3 separate regions of the Homo sapiens genome follow, and regions 2 and 3 are each linked to region 1. The links come from fine-mapping of genetic effects on gene expression. A gene starts in region 1. Each other region holds a variant in brackets. All regions are shown on one strand. Distances are from middle to middle.

Region 1 (6,446 bases):
TTTTCCCAGAGGCAAATGAATCTCCCAGGCAACATCTGATATTTCCTCCTAAATCCAACCCTCCTTCACCCTCTGGCTGGCAGAAATCATCCAGGTTGCCCTAAATTACAAGACACCAGACTACAATTGATTGTACAAATGACAGTTGATACAACATAATGCTTTTTTATTTTGTTATTTTCATTTTTTTGAGACAGGTTCTTGCTCTGTTGCCCAGGCTGGAGTTGCAGTGGTGTGATCACAGCTCACTGCAGCCTCGACCTCCTGCACTCAAGCAATCCTCCCACTTCAGCCTCCCAAGTAGCTGGTACTACAGGTTTGCACCACCATGCTTGGCGGATTTTAAATTTTTTTGTAGAGACAGGGTCTCACCATGTTGCCCAGGCTGGTCTCGAACTCCTGGGCTCAAGGGATCGATCCTCCCACTTCAGCCTCCCAAAGTTCTGGGATTACAGGTATGAGCCACTTTGCCCAGCTGGTTTTAATTTTCAATTCTGGACATGATTTCCAGCTCTTAGGGGAGAAAGACCTCCTAAAGCAAAACGCTCACCTAAGGCTGCTCAGTTTTCCTGCTGTCCAAAGACTGAGAGAGTCTGGAAAACAGGAGCAGCTTTTCCAACCCAAAAGTGTGGTTATGAGGACTAAATGAGACTGTTTATGTAAACACCTTTGCAAGTGATAAAGTTCAGTATAAACATAGTGTCTAGCAGACTGTCTGGTGAAAAGCAATATGTCACTCTCTAGACGAATGGAAATAAACCAAAAAAACCTAGGGTCTTATCATGAGGACATCTTTGGAAAATATGTCAGGATCAGGCCATGAAAATTTCTAAGTCCTTCTGCAGCTGTGACTTTCTGGCATCCCAAAGTCCAGGGCGGAGGTACAGCCGCCCAGGAATTTATTCCTCCATAACTTTGAGCTCCCCAAATCCCCACGAAGCCCAGGAATGATGTGACTGCAGGGCATGTGGGCCCATTGGCACCAACAGCCCCTCCATAAATCAAGGTCTCACTTATGCTGGCCTCAGACTGCTTTTTCCAAGGTGACCTGGGCAAACTGAAAGGGTAGTTGCTTATCTAGGGGTGGCATCTGCCTTTGAGATGAAAGAACCCTGAAAATGCTAAGAGGACCAATTCTCTAGAAATACATTCCTTTCAGGAAGAGCTTTCTTCAGCTCAGACGACAATTCAGTTAGGAGTTAGAGACAGAGCGGCAGTCTTCCCATATCTCAGCCAGTTTGGGTGACCCAAGAGGCCCCATGGGGCAGACCAGAGGGGCCCTGTTCCAGTCCTGGGTCAGCACCAGTGAAAGTCAAGGTGACCTCAGCATTGTTACCAGTTATCCACAAGACAGCCACGTGAATCACAGAATCTTAAATCAGAGGGCCCAACACCCTAATGGTTCAGGCAAGGAAACTATAGGTCAAAGATGGGGAGGGGCTTATCCAAGGTCACATGGCCTTGAAGAGAATATTCCAGGTTAGACCTAGAGGTTCAGGCCTCACTACACACCCCCTTTAATGAGGCCACACTGGCGGTATAGCGGGGTTCCAGTCAAGGACTCCAGAAACAGCCCATCCAGCCAATTGACCTGGCCATCTCAATGTCTCCAGTAGCATCCACATCAGCTGTGAGAGTGGAAACCAAAGACTATAGAAAGGCGCCCTTCACATGTCCAAAACAAGCAGACAGAAAGGGGAAAAAAAAATCACTCCTACGAAACCCCGGGACCTGCAAGGTTAACAATCTACACAAACGCGTGGAGTGACTGAAGAGGCAGGTGCCTTGGAGGCTCCAGGCCACTCCTGCCCAAGGTAAGTCCCAAGAGTGAGGCCAGCTCTGAGCAGATCCATGGAGGGGGCTGGAAAAAGAAGCTGAGATGTCTAAAATGGAAACTCAGTAAAAAACAAAACCAAAAAACTTTCTTCACAGAACTGCTGTGGGGATTAAGTGGGATAATGGACCATAATGTTTGGCACAGAGTAGAAATGGTTTCTTATATTAAATGGCTAACAAAGCCACCAAGGACTGGGTGTCCTTCTCTGGGCACACCCTCTCGTACAGAACAGAGCTCACAGTGTCTAGCTGTCTGCTCACTTGCCGTCTCCACCACTAGAGAGTAAATTCAATGAGCAGTGACCACCTGGCTTGCTCATTCCCTGCAGCATCCCAGCACTTGGTGCCTGCCACATAGTAGCCACTCCATTCGTATTTATGAATGAATGAATGAACGAACAAAAGAATGGCACCTTTGCCAGCCACCCTTGAAATCACCTCAGCTCATTCACCAACTGCCCAGTTTGTTTGGGACTCTCAGTGCAGAAACCTGGGCAGCCTCGGGCAAGCTGCACGGTATGCGACAGAAAGGGCTGACTCAAGCCAGTAAGCGTCAGAGATGAATAATAAGACTGACAAATTCTTAGGGAGGCTAGGTGTGGTGGCTCACGCCTGTAATCCCAGCACTTTGGGAAGTTGGAGCAGGATGATTGCTTGAGCCCAGCCTGGGCAACATAGCCAGACTCCATCTCTACAAATAATTTTTTAAAAAAATTATCCGGGTGGCCGGGCGCGGTGGCTCATGCCTGTAATTCCAGTACTTTGGGAGGCCGAGGTGGGTGGCTCACGAGGTCAGGAGTTCAAGACCAGCCTGGCCAAGATGGTGAAACCCCATCTCTACTAAAAACACAAAAAAATTAGCCGGGCATGATGGCGGACGCCTATAATCCCAGCTACTCGGGAGGCTGAGGCAGGGAATTGCTTGAACCCGGGAGGCGGAGGTTGCAGTCAGCCGAGATCGCGCCACTGCACTCCAGCCTGGGAGACAGAGCGATACTCCATCTCAAAAAAAAGAAAAAAAAAAAAACTACCCGGGTATGGTGGCTCACACGCCTGTAGTCCCAGCTACTCTGGAGGTGGGAGGATCGCTTGAGCCTGGGAAGTCGAGGCTGCAGTGAGCCAAGACTGCACACCGGCCTGGGCAACAGAGTGAGACCCTGTCTGAAAAAAAAAAAAAAAATTGGCCGGGCGCAGTGGCTCATGCCTGTAATTCCAGCACTTTGGGAGGCCAAGGTGGGCGGATCACGAGGTCAGGAGTTCAAGACCAGTCTGGCCAAGATGATGAAACCCCGTCTCTACTAAAAATACAAAAAATTAGCCGGGTGTGATGGTGTGCGCCTGTAATCCCAGCTACTCGGGAGGCTGAGGCAGGAGAATCGCGTGAACCCGGGAGGCGGAGGTTGCAGTGAGCCAAGATCGCGCCATTGCACTCCAGCCCGGGAAACAGTGCGAGACTCCATCTCAAACAAACAAACAAAAATTCCAGGAATAAAGAGGTTGAAATCGGGGCAGGGACCCGGATAGGATGGCTCCGCCCCATCTAAGTCTTAGCCCCACCCCCTGAAAGTCGCCCTGCCTCTCAGACTCCTCCCCTTTCTGAGAAGGTCACGGGGGAAGCCAAATGGGCATGCGCCGCTACTGCGCTATTGCGCACGCTCGCTGTGCTTGCCCCGCCTTCCCTCCGCCCACCCGGGAAACCGGAAGCCGCCTCCCACTTGGTTGCTCGTACGCGGCTAGTGGGTCCTCAGTGGATGTAGGCTGGGCGCCGCGATGTTCGACGGGACACCGGCGGAGAGCGACCTCGGGGTTAAGGGGTGGGGCTGACGTCAGGAGCCAAGATGGCGGCGGTGGTCGCCCTCTCCTTGAGGCGCCGGTTGCCGGCCACAACCCTTGGCGGAGCCTGCCTGCAGGTGAGTCCTGGAGCCTCAGAGAGGGAAAAGTCAGGAAAGCCACAGAGACTGCCTGGAGCTGATGGGGCTGCGGAGAGACTGAGGAAGCATAGGGCAAGGCCTCAGGGAGATGGAGGACCTCCTCCCCCTGGTGCAGTGCTTTGGTTTGGCTTCGAGCATCCCTGTCAAGTTATCTTTCTGCGCCTCGCAGCAGCTTGTGAGTTAGGGCACGGGCAATTTTTTACAGCTAAGGGTGCGGGGGGGGGGGACGTTCAGAAAGGGGACTTGAATTGCTCAAGGTCACATGGCAAGCGAATGACTGCTGGAACCAGAATTTGAATCCAGACATTGGAGTTCCAAGCCCTTTTTCTGCCACCAAACTATCGCCTCTGTAGAAAAGGGAGACCTGCGGGGTGTGAAGGATGGGAATTGGGAAGCGAGGTAATTCCTCAAGGGTGCGAGGTTGAGGACCGGGATGGGTGAGGAAAGGACATGTGAATTGTTGGGGACAGGGCAGGGGAAGGGAGAGATGGAGGGAAATGCACCCAGCCCCCTACCTCGAAGGATCCCGGAGGTGGGTGGTGGGGGTTGCAGGAAAGACTGGGTTCCTTAAAGCAGTGTCACCACAGTTTCACTAGTATCCTCTCAGTGTTTCTGACTCTAAAGGTCATATAATAATACGGACCTCATAGAGTTGACATGGAATGACAGGTAGAGGGCTTGGCGCTGTTCTTGTTTATTACTATGCCGTGTGCAGTAACAGATTTTCCCACGCCCCTTGTATGGCCAAGAAACAACACATTTCTGACCTGCCTTCTAAGTGGGAACATTTAGAAGGGGAAGGGAAATTGCTTTTGTATACATAAGGGACTAAGGATTTGCAAATCCTTTCTAAGTCTGTTCCTCTTCTGGGATTCTCAACAACCCCTTTAAGGTGGGCAAGCAAGAATCCTTACCCTCCTTTTTGGAGCTTTGAAAACTTGAGGCCCCCAGAAAGAAAATTTTTGGCTTGCTCAAAATATCACATTCCCAAGAAGCAGACCTGAGGCAGTTTTTTAACATGGTACCAGAAAAACTCCTTAGCATAGATCTTGGGACATGGTTGGTGTCCAAGAAATTTTAGTTCCTCTTCCTCTCTTGCACTTAAATGAGGACATCTTTCATCTTAAGTGCCTGCTATGGCTGCATAACACAGTACATATTGCCCATGTTCCAATCCTGGTTCTATCCAGCATGCTGTGTGTGAACTTGGATCCACTCTGTCTGCATCAGCCTTTCTGAAAAGGGGAGATAGAGGAAGAAGACAGCCTACCAGAGCCTCAAGCTGACATCCTCTCAGTATTAAATTGATGATTGATAATGAGCTTGTTTACCTGTTCCTTTTATAGTTGCTGAGCAAACAATTAAATTGTGAGAGCCCCACTAACGAGAGAGTTCCAAGCCCCTCTTCTAAGAATGCATTGTAGAAAAGGCTAATTTCATAGGTCATTTTTGTAATTCCAGGCAAGGTCTTTGCAGGGCCTCCTGAGGGCAACAGAAAATAGAAGAGCCCCAAGGCCTCCCCTTCCTTGTGGGAATGTACATGTATACCCACAAAAGCCACCTCAAAAGAATTCAGTAATGAGCTTGGTGTGTTACCTGTGGGTAACATTCAGGTTCAGGTTCTGAATTCTTTTTATGCTTATAGTCTGACCACTGAACCACAATTCTGCCTGTAAGTATTTGACTGTAGTATATTAACTATTGTTTGTGTTGCCTTATTTCTTCATCTGGACTATGAACTCCTTTAGGACAAGAACTACCTACTTAAAAGTGTGTATCTTGCCAGGTGCAGTGGCTCATGCCTGTAATTCCAGCACTTTGGGAGGCCAAGGTGGGTGGATCACCTGAGGTCAGGAGTTCAAGACCAGCCCGGCCAACATGGTGAAACCCCGTCTCTACTAAAAAAATAAAAAAAAAATTAGCTGGGCGTGGTGGTGGGCGCCTATAATCCTAGCTACACAGGAGGCTGAGGCAGGAGAATTGCTTGAACCTGGGAGGTGGAGGGTGCAGTGAGCTGAAATCGCACCATTGCACTCCATCCTGGGCGACAAGAGCGAAACTCAGTCTCAAAAAAAAAAAAAAAATTTAAAAAATGTGCATCTTGTTCCTTAGGCTGGCAGGGCTAGGATACCTATTTACAAATCAGAATAATACAAAGACTGATAAGGTTGCCAATCTTGTAGAGCAAAAATTTTTTTCTGGGCTATGCTAGAAACTTGACCCCCCCTCCCCCGGGTTATCTTATGAGGCAGATATTAATACTACCCACCCTTTACAAAGGAAGAAATAGAATCCGAAAAGCTAATAATTTGCAGAAGAATACACAGCTTGTAAGTGATAGAGCTTGGATTTCAAGCATCACCAATCACACTTTTCAGCAAGCCTGCACCTTGTATTTTACTCAGGCTTATCTTCATACAGTCCTTTTTGCTTTCTTCCTCTCTATTTCCCCACCTTCTTCTCTGGCCTCCAAATCTTTATCCACTCCATCCAACTCCAAGCCTGCACCCTAAGGACACTTTACTGGAGGAACAACAACCAGCCTTCAGCACCATTCAGAATTCACCCTTCTCAGTTCAGTTGTTGCTTACCTTGCTTAAATTATAAACTATGAAATTCATACTATCCAAGATTTCCTAGGAATGTACTTTCTGCCTTGAATACTCATTAGTCTTTAGA
Region 2 (6,446 bases), 530 kb after region 1:
TTCTGCCTTGCTTTCCACAAAAATTAACCCATCACAGTCTGCCTTCAAGTGGCATCATACCTCTTCACATGACTCCTCCCCCTGCCTTTATGCTATTGTCATGCATTTTACTTTACACCTGTTATAAACCTTACAATCCATCTCTATTACTTTTGTTTCAAGAGTCAGATGTGTTTTTGTTTGTTTGTTTGTTTGTTTGTTTGTTTGTTTTTGCTTTTTTGTTGCTGGTGGTGGTGTTTTTAAGACGAGTCTTACTCTATCGGACAGGCTGGAGTGCAGTGGCACAGTCTTGGCTCACTGCAACCTCTGCTTTCCGGGTTCGAGCGATTCTCCTGACTCAGACTCCTGAGTAGCAGAGATTACAGGCTTGCGCCACCATATATGACTAATTTTTGAATTTTTCGTAGAGAGGAAGGTTCACCATATTGGCCAGGCTGGTCTCGAACTCCTGACCTCAAGTGATCCGCCTTCCTTGGCCTCCCAAAGTGCCGGGATTCCAGGCGTGAGCCATCGTGCCCAGCTAAACAGTCAGATGTTAAAATTATATATTTGCCTATGTAGATGTCATTTCTAGTGTCTTTTTTTTTTTCATCCACATTTTCATCTGGTGTCAGTTTCCTTCTGCCTGGAGGACTCCTTTAACTTGTCTATTAGGTGTCTTAAACTTGCACTATCATTCACTGATGCTCTGTTCATTTAAAAAAAAAAACTTGTTGGCCGGGTGCGGTGGCTCACGCCTGTAATCCCAGCACTTTGGGAGGCCGAGGTGGGTAGATCAGGAGGTCAGGAGATAGAGACCATCCTGGCTAACACGGTGAAACCCCGTCTCTACTAAAAATACAAAAAAATTAGCTGGCTGTGGTGGCGGGCGCCTGTAGTCCCAGCTACTCAGGAGGCTGAGGCGGAAGAATGGTGTGAACCCAGGAGGCGGAGCTTGGAACCTGTCAAAAGGCATTCTTAGCCTTAAAAGAAAAGCCAGGGACATCCCTTGCCTCAGGACTCTCGAACTTAGAAAAACCTTTCACCCTCTATGTGGATGAATAACAAGGGACAGCTTCGAATGTTCTAACTCAAAGGCTGAGGAATTGCTTTGGACCAGTGGCTTATTTCTCTAAACAGCTAGACCAGGTGGCAGCTAGGTGACCAAGAAGCTTGAGATCTGTGACTACCATCACTCTATCGTTAGACGAAACCAGTAAGTTTACCTTGGGACAACAATTACATGCCATACCACCCCACCCCCACCCCCACCCCCTGCCACCCCATGAAGTACAGTACAGAGGGTCCTAGAGGCAAAAGTACACCAATGGCTAACAGGGGGCCAGTTACTTAAATATCAGACCCTTCTGCTTGACACCCCAGATGTTACCCTGAAAGTGTCCTGATTTTTAAACCCTGCTACTCTGTTGCTGCACCTCACGTCTCAAGAAACAGATCCCAAACTCATTGACTCCTGTGTGGAAACCACGGAAGAGCTCTACTCTAGAAGGCCCAACCTTGAAGACAAGCTCTTGTCTAACCCAAATGTTGAGTGGTTTAGAGATGGAAATAGCTATATTCATGAGGGAGTAAGAAAGGAAGCTTAGCCAACAAGAAGTTTTTGAGGCCAAGGGTTTACCTTCTCAGACTTCTGTTCAAAAAGCAGAATTAGCTGCTCTAATTAGGGCCTTCCAACCATGAAAAGACTTAAGCTGGACACGGTGGCTCACGCCTGTAATCCCAGCACTTTGGGAGGCCAAGGTGGGTGGATCACCTGAGGTTGGGAGTTCTATACCGGCCTAGCCAACATGGCGAAACCCCGTCTCTACTAAAAATACAAAAATTAGCTGGGTGTGGTGGGGGTCGCCTGTAATCCCAGCTACTTGGGAGGCTGGGGCATGAGAATCCCTGAGTTTGCAGTGAGCTGAGATTGCAGTGAGCTGAGATCATGCCACTGCACTCCAGCCTGGGCGACACAGCAAGACTCCGTTTCAAAAAAAGAAAAAAAAAGAACAAAACCTCAAGAGTCAATGTGTTGACTGACTCTAAATATGGGTTCCTGGTGCTCCATGCTCATGCAGCCATAGGGAAGGAAAGGGGACTATCAAGAGCCAAGGGATCCCCCACACAACTTTACTCAGATCTTGGAACTTTTAGATGCTGTCCAACTCCCAAAGAAATAACAATTACTCACCGCAGGGGACACCAGAAGGGAGACACTTTTATTATTAGAGGAAATTCCCTGGTGGAAAGAGCAGCTAAGGCCACAGCTAAGGAAACCCTGGTATTTCAGGCTGCTGCGCTACTACCAGGTACTCCATCCGTGTCAGTGACACCATAATATACCCCTAAGGAAATTAAAGGGACTGAGTAAAAGGCTTCCAGGGAGACCCATCTGGATGGTTGCTAGAAAAGAACAAACTCTATTCCTGAGGCTGACAGATGGGAAATAATTAAACATTTTCATGATTCCTCACATTTGGGACAGGATTTTCCATTTAAATTAGTTTCCTAAATATTCTTGCGGAAGGGACTGTTCCAAACTATAAAAAGGGTTACCACTCAGGAAGCCACCCCATACCCCGATCCCTGCTTAAACCTGTACAACACCAAGGAACATACCATGGTGAAGACTGGCAGACAGACTTAAACCAGATGCCACCTTACAGGGGACTACAAGATTTGCTAGTATTTATAGACACTTTCACCAGGTGGATAGAAGCTTTCCCCACAAGGACAGGAAAAGTATTGGAAGTGTCTAAATTCTTAAAGAAATCATTCCAAGATTTGGATTACCAAAAGGTTTGCAAGGTGACAACTGACCTCACTTTACAGCTAAGGTGACCCAGTGAGGTCATGCCTCAGCCTTAGGCATTACCTATCTTCACTCCTCATGGAGATCTCAGTCTTCAAATAACATAGAAAGCCAATCGCGACATTAGCAAAACTCTTTCAGTTTGGGGGCTTGCCTGCCCTGCGTCACTATCATTGTTTCCTTGGGTTTCCCAGGAATGTACATGTGTCAGACTGCCGCCCTGCTTATAGATCTGTTTCCCTGCAAGGAAACAGGAATATGTTGCCTGTGGCTTCCAGAGTTGGAGATACATGTAGTTGCACCCCTGAGGGCTAACATTTAATTTTGGAATCAAGTGATGCAATCAGACTGGTTGTTATCATTCTGTGGTATATATTTAGTGAACACATTCATGATTGAGTTTCCTGCTTTTAGCTGGAGCAAGAAAGTTTTATAATTGTGATTTGTATGAAAAAATCATAGGCAAGGGAATGGGTGTAAAATAAACTTTATTGTCAGAGGTTTCTACAGGCTCATCCTTCAAGGAAAACGGACGTATGCTGAAGAGCTGATAAACTGTCTACAGCAGTGTTATTCTAACCTAATCTTGATTCCAAGTTCTTGCCATTTTCCTCCAGCTGCTGTTGACTCCAGTTATATATAGGATGGGGGAAAGGGGATTATCTATGAATCTAGGCATCACTGTCTCTTGGGCCCTTATCACATTGGCAGACTGAAGGGATGTGATTTCTACAATCAAACTATCCATTTGGAGTACAAATCTGGAGTGGCTGTAGAATTCGGTTCTCAGAGATGAGCTTGCAGATTTGGACTTTCAATTGTTCTGTTGTTTTAGTTTTTCTCATCAACTGGGGAACTGTTTGTGACTAAGCTTTGTTAAAAGTAGAGAAGAGCTTTTCATAGTTCCAACATTAGTTGTTACC[C/T]GAAACAAACAAAAACACACACACACAAAATTAAACAATAATCTTTGGTGAGGTCTTGCTGATACCTGAGGCTGGAGTGAGAGCTGACTGGTGATACAGGCCAGGTGCAAACTGAGTGTAACTAAGTGGATAATCTCCAGTAGTGAACTACAGTCTAGAAGAAGATAGTAATAATAGATTGAAAAAAAAGTCTCCTGAAATGAACTAGCTGGCCTGTGGTGTAGGACACAGGACCCCACCCACCTTATGATTCTAAAAGCCTTGCTCAAAGCCACTGCAGATGAGTTCACTAGGTCTCTACCACCTCCTCAGCATCAATTGACTCTCCATAATACTCCTCTGGAGAGAAATAAGGGTCTTTCAACCTCCCAGGAAGGAATTTGCTTAGCCTCAAATGTGCACATTCAGAAATAGCTTGTCATAAGAAAGAGAGGATAGTTTGCAGAGAAATAACCCTCCTAAGTCCACATCCTGTTCCTTTTAAATAAGAGAGTGGTGCCAAGGGAAGAGCCCTAGAATGTCAAAGCCAACAGGGTGCTCAGATACCACCCAAGTACAGTTCCATCTTTGGCCATAAGGAGACAATGGTGTCAAGAGGCTAAGGCCGTATGATCTGTAGGTGAAAAACCTGGGATGAGAATCGAGGCCTCAAAACTTTTCCACTACATCACAGAGTTTAGGAGCAGTTAGAGGGAAGGCTTCAATCTGGAGAACACTAACAGGCTCTAGAGATTATTGGGTCATGGTGGCTGGGACAGAAATAAGGATTCACAGAAAGATGTTTATAGTAAATGTTCTTTTGGGATTTTGCTTGATAAAAAGGCAGAGCAAAAGTAAAAATTTATTTATTTTCTTTTTTTTTTTTAGACAGTTTCACTCTTGTTTCCCAGGCTGGAGTGCAATGGTGCAATCTCAGCTCACCACAACCTCCAGCCCCTGGGGTTCAAGCAATTCTCCTGCCTCAGCCTCCCAAGTAGGTGTGATTACAGGCATGCACCACCACGCCCAGCTAATTTTTTTTTTTTTTTTTTTTTAGTAGAGACGGGGTTCCTCCATCTTGGTCAGGCTGGTCTCAAACTCCCGACCTCAAGTGATCCTCCCAAAGTGCTGGGATTACAGGCTCCAGCCACCACACCTGGCCAAAAGGAAAAATTTTCTAATTGCAATTCTGAACCACTTAGGGGTTGTGAAATCAATATAGTCGACTGCTTACTACTGCAGGCTTTATTTAAATTCTAGGTAGGGTGGATTACACATAGTAAAAGATTTTTTAAAAACTGATCACAGGCCAGGCGCAGTGGCTCACGCCTGTAATCCCAGCACTTTGGGAGGCCGAGGCGGGTGGATCACGAGGTCAGGAGATTGAGACCATCCTGGCTAACACGGTGAAACCCCGTCTCTAATAAAAATACAAAAAAAAAAAAAAATTAGCTGGGCATGGTGGTGGGTGCCTGTAGTCCCACCTACTCAGGACGCTAAGGCAGGAGAATGGTGTGAACCCAGGAGGGTGGGGCTTGTAGTGAGCCGAGATCATTCCAATGCACTCCAGCCTGGGCAACGGAGCAAGACTCCATCTCAAAAAAAAAAAAAAAAAAAAAAAAAACTGATCACAAAGAATTGTATATTTCTCACTGCATCTTGTGGTCAGAAAAGTTTGAGAAACTGCTCTACATAGGCAAATTACAGGTTCAACCTCTCCATCTACCTCTTTATCTCTTCTCTATTTTCCATGCTATGCAGACAAGACCATGGAGAGAGGAAGGGAAATTCCATCAAAGGGTGGTGTTAAGCCTTTTCTATGAGGTAGCTGCACATTTGGGGCACTTCAATAATGGTTACTTGAGATTCTAGTAGATAGATTGTCCTTTTCATCTCTAGCCACATGGTAAAATTACTTGGGAGTGTTTTAAGACTACTAGTGGCTTCCACCCACCTGGAAGCGTTTAAATCAGAATCTCTATGTGTAGAGTCCAGACACTTGTGTTAGTTAAAACCTCACCGGGCTTTATAATATGACAGAGTGGTTTAAAGCTACGGAGTAGACCCACCCTATTTCCTACCTTTCTCTTTGTTTCTCTTTCACCATAGGCTTCTTTCCCATGAAAAAGTACAGATTTTAGTCTCTGTTTTCAGAGTCTCAAGTAAATCACTCTCTTTCTCAACTGGACTTCCAAGGCAAAGATTTCTTTCTATTTATCTATCTGCATTTTTACAAAGTTGGCCTCTGGATTCCCTTTTGCCAAACCTAATTCACCACAAAGGTGCCCCTCAAGTCAAGGAGCTGGGCTTTCATACACCTGCACCTGTCAATCATGGGTAAATATTTTGCAGGCAGGGTTGCTGGGTGCTGTGGGATTGACATAAACTCCCAGGTATTGCCAGCTCTGAGCCTCAGGCAAGCTTGTGACTAAGTGCCTCCAGTAGTCTGAGGATAGTCCTTACTCAGAAGGGTCTGTGGAAGCAAAAGCAAACATAGGCATGAGAGGGTAAAAAAAAAAAAAAAAAAAAAAAAATCTCATGTCATCTTGGCTTATACCTAACAGAACTTGTGCAAGAATGGATATTAAGGTGGGTATTGTACACCACAGAGCTTAGTAAATACCAAGTCTGGAGTTTAAGGGATAGGCTGAAGAGATTTTGCAGGTTTGTAAACATTGTTGCCAACTTGAACACACTTTTGTTTGGGTTTGGTTTTTCTCCTCAGTGGTAAGAGCTACGCACAATAGGGT
Region 3 (6,446 bases), 840 kb after region 1:
TGTATTAACGTGTTATAAGTAATCTAGAATTGATTTAAACTGTACTGGAGTGCCGGGCGTGGTGGCTCATGTCTATAAATCCAGTACTTTGGGAGGCCAAGGCTGGTGGATCGCCTGAGCCCAGGAGTTTGAGACTAGGCTGGGCAACCTGGTGAGATCCCATCTCTACAAAAAATACAAAAATTAGTCAGGTGTGGGGGTGCACACCAGTGGTCCCAGTTACTCAGGAGGCTTAGGTGGGAGAATCACCTGAGCCCAGGAGGTCGACGAGACTGCAAGTGAGCCCTGTAATTGCACCACTGTACTCCAGCCTGGATGACAGAGTGAGACCCTCTCACTTGAGGACATTTTATTTTATTTTTTGACAATAAATACATAAAATAGACTGGGTGCGGTGGCTCACGTCTATAATCCCAGCACTTCGGGAGGTTGAGGCGGGTGGATCACTTAAGGTCAGGAGTTCAAAAACCAGCCTGGCCAACATGGTGAAACCCTGTCTTGACTAGAAACAAAAAAAATTAGTAGGGTGTGGTGGCATGCGCCTGTAATCCCAGCTACTGGGGAGGCTGAGGCAGAAGAATTGCTTGAACCTGGGAGGCAAAGGTTGCGGTGAGCTGAGATCCCACCACTTGCTCCAGCCTGGGTGACAGAGCAAGACTCCATCTTAAAAATAAATAAATAAATAAATAAATAAATAAATAAATAAATAAATAAAATAAAATAAAATAAAATTTACTGGAGGATGTACAAAGGTTATAGCAAACACTATGACATTTTGTATAAGGGACTGGAGCAGCCATGGATTTTCGTATGGGAGGGTTCTAGAACCAATTCCCCACAGATTCTGGGTACCAAGGGACAACTGTACTCACCTGATAAGTGGTAGCAGTATCTACCTGACAGGGTCATGGTGGAGATTAAATGAGTAAATACATGTGAAGTGCTCAGGACAGTGCCTGGCACCTAGTAGGTGAACAATAAGTTAGCTTCATGACTATTAGTCTGTGTACACATCTGCATATTAATATTAGGTGCCTGGCAATTGCTGGTAGCTCAAACAGATGGCAGGTAGAATTAGGGGAAAATGCAGCTTCCCATTCCACAGGGTTGGGAAGATTGCATGCCGGGCATAGAGCATGCCCTTCTTATTGGAGGCAGTTTGACTTGGCTATTTGGCTTGGTTTATTGAGGGCTCAATTGGTATAGTCTGGGAAGGCTTCATGGTGGAGGCGGCCACTGGAGATGGTGGGGCAGGTCATTCCAGGCCGTGGGAAAGGATGGGGATTTGCAAGCAGTGGCTGTACTAGATGAGGAGAGGCTGTCCAGGATGATGCCACATGTCACATCATCAACTTTCAGGACTGATTTCTGTCTCCCAATCATAGGGATGAGTGTTCCAATTTGATAGATGTAGTAATAGGATCAGAGAGGGTCATCAGGGTTCTCAGGGTCCCTAAGGAGTGCAGGGCTTGGGAGGCTCTCTGTGAAGCTCCCAGGATGCTCCCCAGCTCCAAGAAGTCCCCTGAGCATGCTCATGTTTGGGAAGCTCCAGAAGAGTGGTGACCTGTCTCCTAGGAGCAGAAGCACTGCCTCCCCCGTCTTTAGGACCTGGGTGTAGGGTCCTTCAGAGCCTCACTTGGGCATAGGACTCCCATTGTTCCAGCCCCCCTCTTGTACCCCAGACTAGCCAAACCGGTTCTGGGGAAGGGGGGCGGGGAGCAGGCACGTTGAGACAGCCGCCTGCCTCTCTCTGCAAGGTTCCCTCCTCCTTCACCTCCCCCTCCCTGCCCCACACAATACCCAGGAGCTTGCCTTGCTCGGCTCTGGGGCCATGCTGACATGCTGACATCGCCCCCTGAGGACTTGGCTGCAACCCCAGAGCCCCCAGGGTGTCCCGGAGCCCTGGACCGTGCTGGCAGCTGGACGGAGCTCCCTGGCTGAGGTAGGGCCCCACCTGGGTGCCAGCAGTCCCATTCTCTTCCCGCCAGTTTTCCCCGCTGAGTGAGCCCTTTGTGCTGCCCGCCTGGTCTCTGATCCTGGCTCTGACCCACTATGGCCTTCTGGGGCTCTGTGAACCACTTGGCCTGGATCCACTTTCCAGCCATGACTTCCCACCTGGCTTTATTCCTTAAAGGGCAGAGAGGCTCTGGCAGGGTACCAGCTCTCCTGGGCAGCAAGGCAAGGGGCACCCGGGAGGGGGCAGGGAAAAGCTAGGTACAGGAGGCCAGAAACACTTTTTCTGATCATGGTAGTGTCCAGGGACTCTCTGGCAGCCTTGCTAAGTGGGCCCATCGTCTTCTGTAATTAGCAGCACCCACCAAGGGTACTTTCCTCGGCCCCTGCCCATCCTTCTTGGCCCAGAGACATTTATGATGAGACATGTTTCTTAGAGAGGGCATTGGGC[G/A]GTGGTGCGGTCCCTTAGGAGCCACTTTACAGATGGGAATACTGAGGCCAAGGGATGGGCTGTGAATTGCCTAAGGCCACACAGCTGGTCAGTGTCAACACTGGGCCTCAAAGCTTGGGCGGAGGTTATTCTTTTTGGGCTCCAGAGTGGCCCTTGCCTAGTAGACACAAGAGTCTCTATCCTGTGATCGTGCCTTGGGAAGGTAATGTCCCTGCTGTCTGGGGCCAGTTCTCTTTCTGAGGTTTTTGTTTGTTTTTTTCTAACAGAGATGAGCTACACACAATATGAACACAGCTTGTCCCTCTTAGCTCCCCAGCATTGAGGTTGGGTGGGCCAAACCCCTGGAGGGCCACAGGGCTGGCATCCCAGCTAGATGGGTCATTCTTATTACCCCTTGGCTTGAGCATAGGTGGAGGCTGACACACTCCTGACTTCTTCCCTGCTAGGGACCTGCCTCCAGCTTCATCTCCCCGGGAAGCCTTCTATGTCCCCTCTCCCCACATTCACCTAGCCTTCTCCTCTGCAGCCTTAACTGGGGGTGCTCCTGCTGCAAAGCCTCAATGTTTTGCCTACTTATCCCTGTGAGCCATGGGAGAGAGGGTCCCTCCCTGCCCTCCAGGAGCTTCCAGAACCCAAGTGCTAGAATCTCCCAGCATACAAAGGGGCAGGGGGCATGTGTACATGCCTGCACATGTGTGCCCCCAGAAGCAAGTGGGACTTCTGTGTCGAGGACTTCTGATTCCTGCAGAGAAAGAGACCCGTCTGTGGGCAGGGGCCTCCTTGTGCACACTCCTGCGATATAATGTGTGTCTCAGCCTCACTCCTTCATCTTCCCCATCTGTGTGAAGGCCTGAGCTGCCTTCTGTCTAGAGAAAGACTGATGATAATAAAAATACTATCCTATTTGCCGGATGAGGAGACCGAGGCTTAGGGAGACTCGCTCAGATGGGTACTTTTCAGGCTAGAGGGACAGAGGCTGATGGTACAAGCCAGAGTGGCCACCGTAGAGAGGACCCCTTTGGAGCAGCCAGTCCCCTTCTTCCCACCCTCCCAGACAGCAGGGTGAAGGGAGCAGGGGGAAGCAGTTGAGAAGCTGTGCAGAGAGACTGGGGCCTGCCATAGACCCAGCCATCTCTCGCTGGGTCCTCTTCTCCCTCCCTGTCTCCAATAGTGACTGACACTGTCACTGTTCAGGCCAAGGCTTTCCCTCTAAGTGCACTATGTATTTCAGCCGTGGAGCAGTTAACTATCACCTCCTCCAGGAAGTCTTCCTGGAATACCCAGGTTGAGTTGAGCCGAGCACCCTCCTCTGATGGTTCCTCTGGCTTGGCTCTTGCCAACCTGGATTGTAACTGTTTTCATTTTTGGCTCTCCCACTAGACTGGCAGCCCACGGGCATGAAATGTTTGTCCATCTGTCTCCCTGGGTTTTCTGGGCTTCATCTGTGTCTCTGAGGATCTGGTTGGCCTGAAATTGTCAGTGTCTCTGTCTCCATCTCTGGGTCCCTGAATGTCTCAGCATCTGTGGTTTTTCTGTTTTTGAACGTCTTGGGGTCTTGGTTTCTCAGTTACTGGCTAAGTGGTCTCTGTTTCTCTGGGTCTCTCTCAGTCTTCATTTCCTGGCTCTCCTGGTCCTGCCAGGCTGGGCACTGCCCCTTTGGCCTGAGGGGGCCTCTGGGGGGTCCTGGCTGCCCGGCCTGCCCACAGCGAGGCCAGGCTAGGGTAGGCCCCCGCCCAGCCCGCTGCCTGCTCCCTCCCTCCCTCCCTGCTTGCCTCACCACAGGGTTTGATGAATCAAACTCTTTGTCTGGGTGGGATCTCCCCCAGCCAGCTGGGCAGAGAGAGGGCTTCCCCTGCCGGAACAGCCAAACAGCATCAGCAGCGGGCCTGGGCCCAGAGAGGTGAGGGGCTGCAGGAGGGAGGCTGGCAGAGGGCCACAGGGCAAGAGCTGTGGGGGCTTGGGCCTCTCAGATCATCAGGCCTGCCCCGATCGGAGGGCTGGCTCCCCAGGGATAACTTCCTGCCCAGAAAGGACCCATCCAGCCTGGCCCACCCAGGGGCTGGAAGCTGGGGTGGGGGACAGCCCCTCTTTCACTCCAAGCCGGGGGTGCTGGGGCACCTCTTTGAACTTCGAGAAGGCCCCTGCCTGATCTGGGTGGTGGCCCGCCTGCCAGTCCATGACCCTCCCAGCCAACTTGGCATGGGTGTGGGCACCACTCAGCACTGAAGGCCGCAACTCTGGGCAAGGGTCGGGGAGATGGGGGGAGAAACATCAGAGCAAGGACCTGTGGGCTGGTGTGTGTCTGTGTGCATGTGAAGGGAACAGGAGGGTGAGAAATCTTGGGTGCCTGTGTAAATATCGGACGGGTCAGCGTGTTTGTGAGGAGTTGTCTGTGAATGTATGCGGTTGTGTAAAAATGTGTGTGTCTGTGACTGTGTGAGCCTGAGTTTGAAATGTCTGTATCTATGAAAGTGTACATGTCATTCTATACTTGGGAGAAAATGTAGTGTGGATGTATATGTTGGGAAATGGATTTGTGTGACAATGTATGTATTTGCATGTCTGGTGACATGTCAGTGTGTTTTAGAGAAGTACAAGGTGGTTAAAATCATCGATTTCAAAGCTAGAACGGCCAGGTTAGAATCCTGGCTCCACCATTTACCAAATAACCTCTCTGTGCCTCAGTTTCCTCACCTATAAAATGGGGATAATAAGAGCATCAACTCACAGCGTTGTTGTGAGGATTAAATGAGATAGTATGTGTAAAGTACTTGGCCTATCATTCAGGCAATGCCAAGCAAGTATCAGCTATTTCTATATAATTAGACATGTGAGTGTGTTTGTGGAGATGTGTGTACACAAGTGTACACAGGGGTTTGTCCAGGCCTCCAGGGGTGGTGGCTTACTGGCCAGCCCCACTGTCCTCTGTCTAGGTCTGATATCTTCTCTTCTGCAGGGCCAGGTGGGTGGCAGAGCAAAAGAGGAATGGACTGTGGGCCACCTGCTACCCTCCAGCCCCACCTGACTGGGCCACCTGGCACTGCCCACCACCCTGTAGCAGTGTGCCAGCAGGAGAGTCTGTCCTTTGCAGAGCTGCCCGCCCTGAAGCCCCCGAGCCCAGTGTGTCTGGACCTTTTCCCTGTTGCCCCAGAGGAGCTTCGGGCTCCTGGCAGCCGCTGGTCCCTGGGGACCCCTGCCCCTCTCCAAGGGTTGCTATGGCCATTATCCCCAGGAGGCTCAGATACAGAGATCACCAGCGGGGGGATGCGGCCCAGCAGGGCTGGCAGCTGGCCACACTGTCCTGGTGCCCAGCCCCCAGCTCTGGAGGGACCCTGGAGTCCCCGACACACACAGCCACAGCGCCGGGCCAGCCACGGCTCGGAGAAGAAGTCTGCCTGTGAGTCACCCTGGGGAAGGCGGGTGTGGGTGCCATGGCAGGGGGATAGGGGAGGGGCTGGGCAGCTCCTTAACCTTTATGTCCCAAGGTTCCCCCAAAAGTCAGGACAAGTGGTAGATTAGTGATAAGGAAACTAGTGGGGCTCAGGGAAGGCAAGTGACTTGTCCAAGGTTATGCAGTGAGTGAGTCACCATTCTGGGCAGCCTGATCCCTCTGTCTACTGCAGCCAGGCCCTGTGCTCTCCTTACCCCTCTCGTGGACCCCAGGGCTCTGGGGACCAGATGCTAGCAGAAACACAGGCCCTTCCCTTGGGCATGGTGCCTGAACCTCCCCAGGTGCTCAGGGCCAGGGGCAGCAGCAGGGAGGAGGTTGGGGGAGACCCCAGCCCGTGCTCTCACTCCTTGCCCCCAACCCTAGGGCGCAAGATGCGGGTGTACCAGCGTGAAGAGGTCCCCGGCTGCCCCGAGGCCCACGCTGTCTTCCTAGAGCCTGGCCAGGTAGTGCAAGAGCAGGCCCTGAGCACAGAGGAGCCCAGGGTGGAGTTGTCTGGGTCCACCCGAGTGAGCCTCGAAGGTCCTGAGCGGAGGCGCTTCTCGGCATCGGAGCTGATGACCCGGCTGCACTCTTCTCTGCGCCTGGGGCGGA

Evidence for each region. PIP is the estimated chance that this variant, and not a neighbour inherited with it, causes the effect.
Region 2: its variant is fine-mapped to the expression of SDHB in whole blood (TOPMed, PIP above 0.99).
Region 3: its variant is fine-mapped to the expression of SDHB in whole blood (INTERVAL, PIP above 0.99).

Annotation. Positions count from the first base shown.
Region 1 is chr1:17,051,248-17,057,693 of GRCh38, reverse strand. It overlaps SDHB (succinate dehydrogenase complex iron sulfur subunit B), which reads left to right and starts at 3,662. Exons shown (of 8, transcript NM_003000.3): 1 at 3,662-3,746. The coding sequence starts at 3,675. RefSeq lists enhancers at 3,123-3,172, 3,723-3,782.
Region 2 is chr1:16,525,616-16,532,061 of GRCh38, reverse strand. No RefSeq gene overlaps it. Among named protein-coding and RNA genes, the nearest start is that of TRE-TTC4-1, 6.5 kb to the left of the region's middle. The variant C/T (reference allele first, on the strand shown) is at 3,718.
Region 3 is chr1:16,207,998-16,214,443 of GRCh38, reverse strand. It overlaps ARHGEF19 (Rho guanine nucleotide exchange factor 19), which reads left to right and starts at 1,792. Exons shown (of 16, transcript NM_153213.5): 1 at 1,792-1,942; 2 at 5,361-5,801; 3 at 6,219-6,446. The coding sequence starts at 5,390. RefSeq lists enhancers at 1,290-1,988, 5,206-6,178, 6,179-6,446. The variant G/A (reference allele first, on the strand shown) is at 2,405.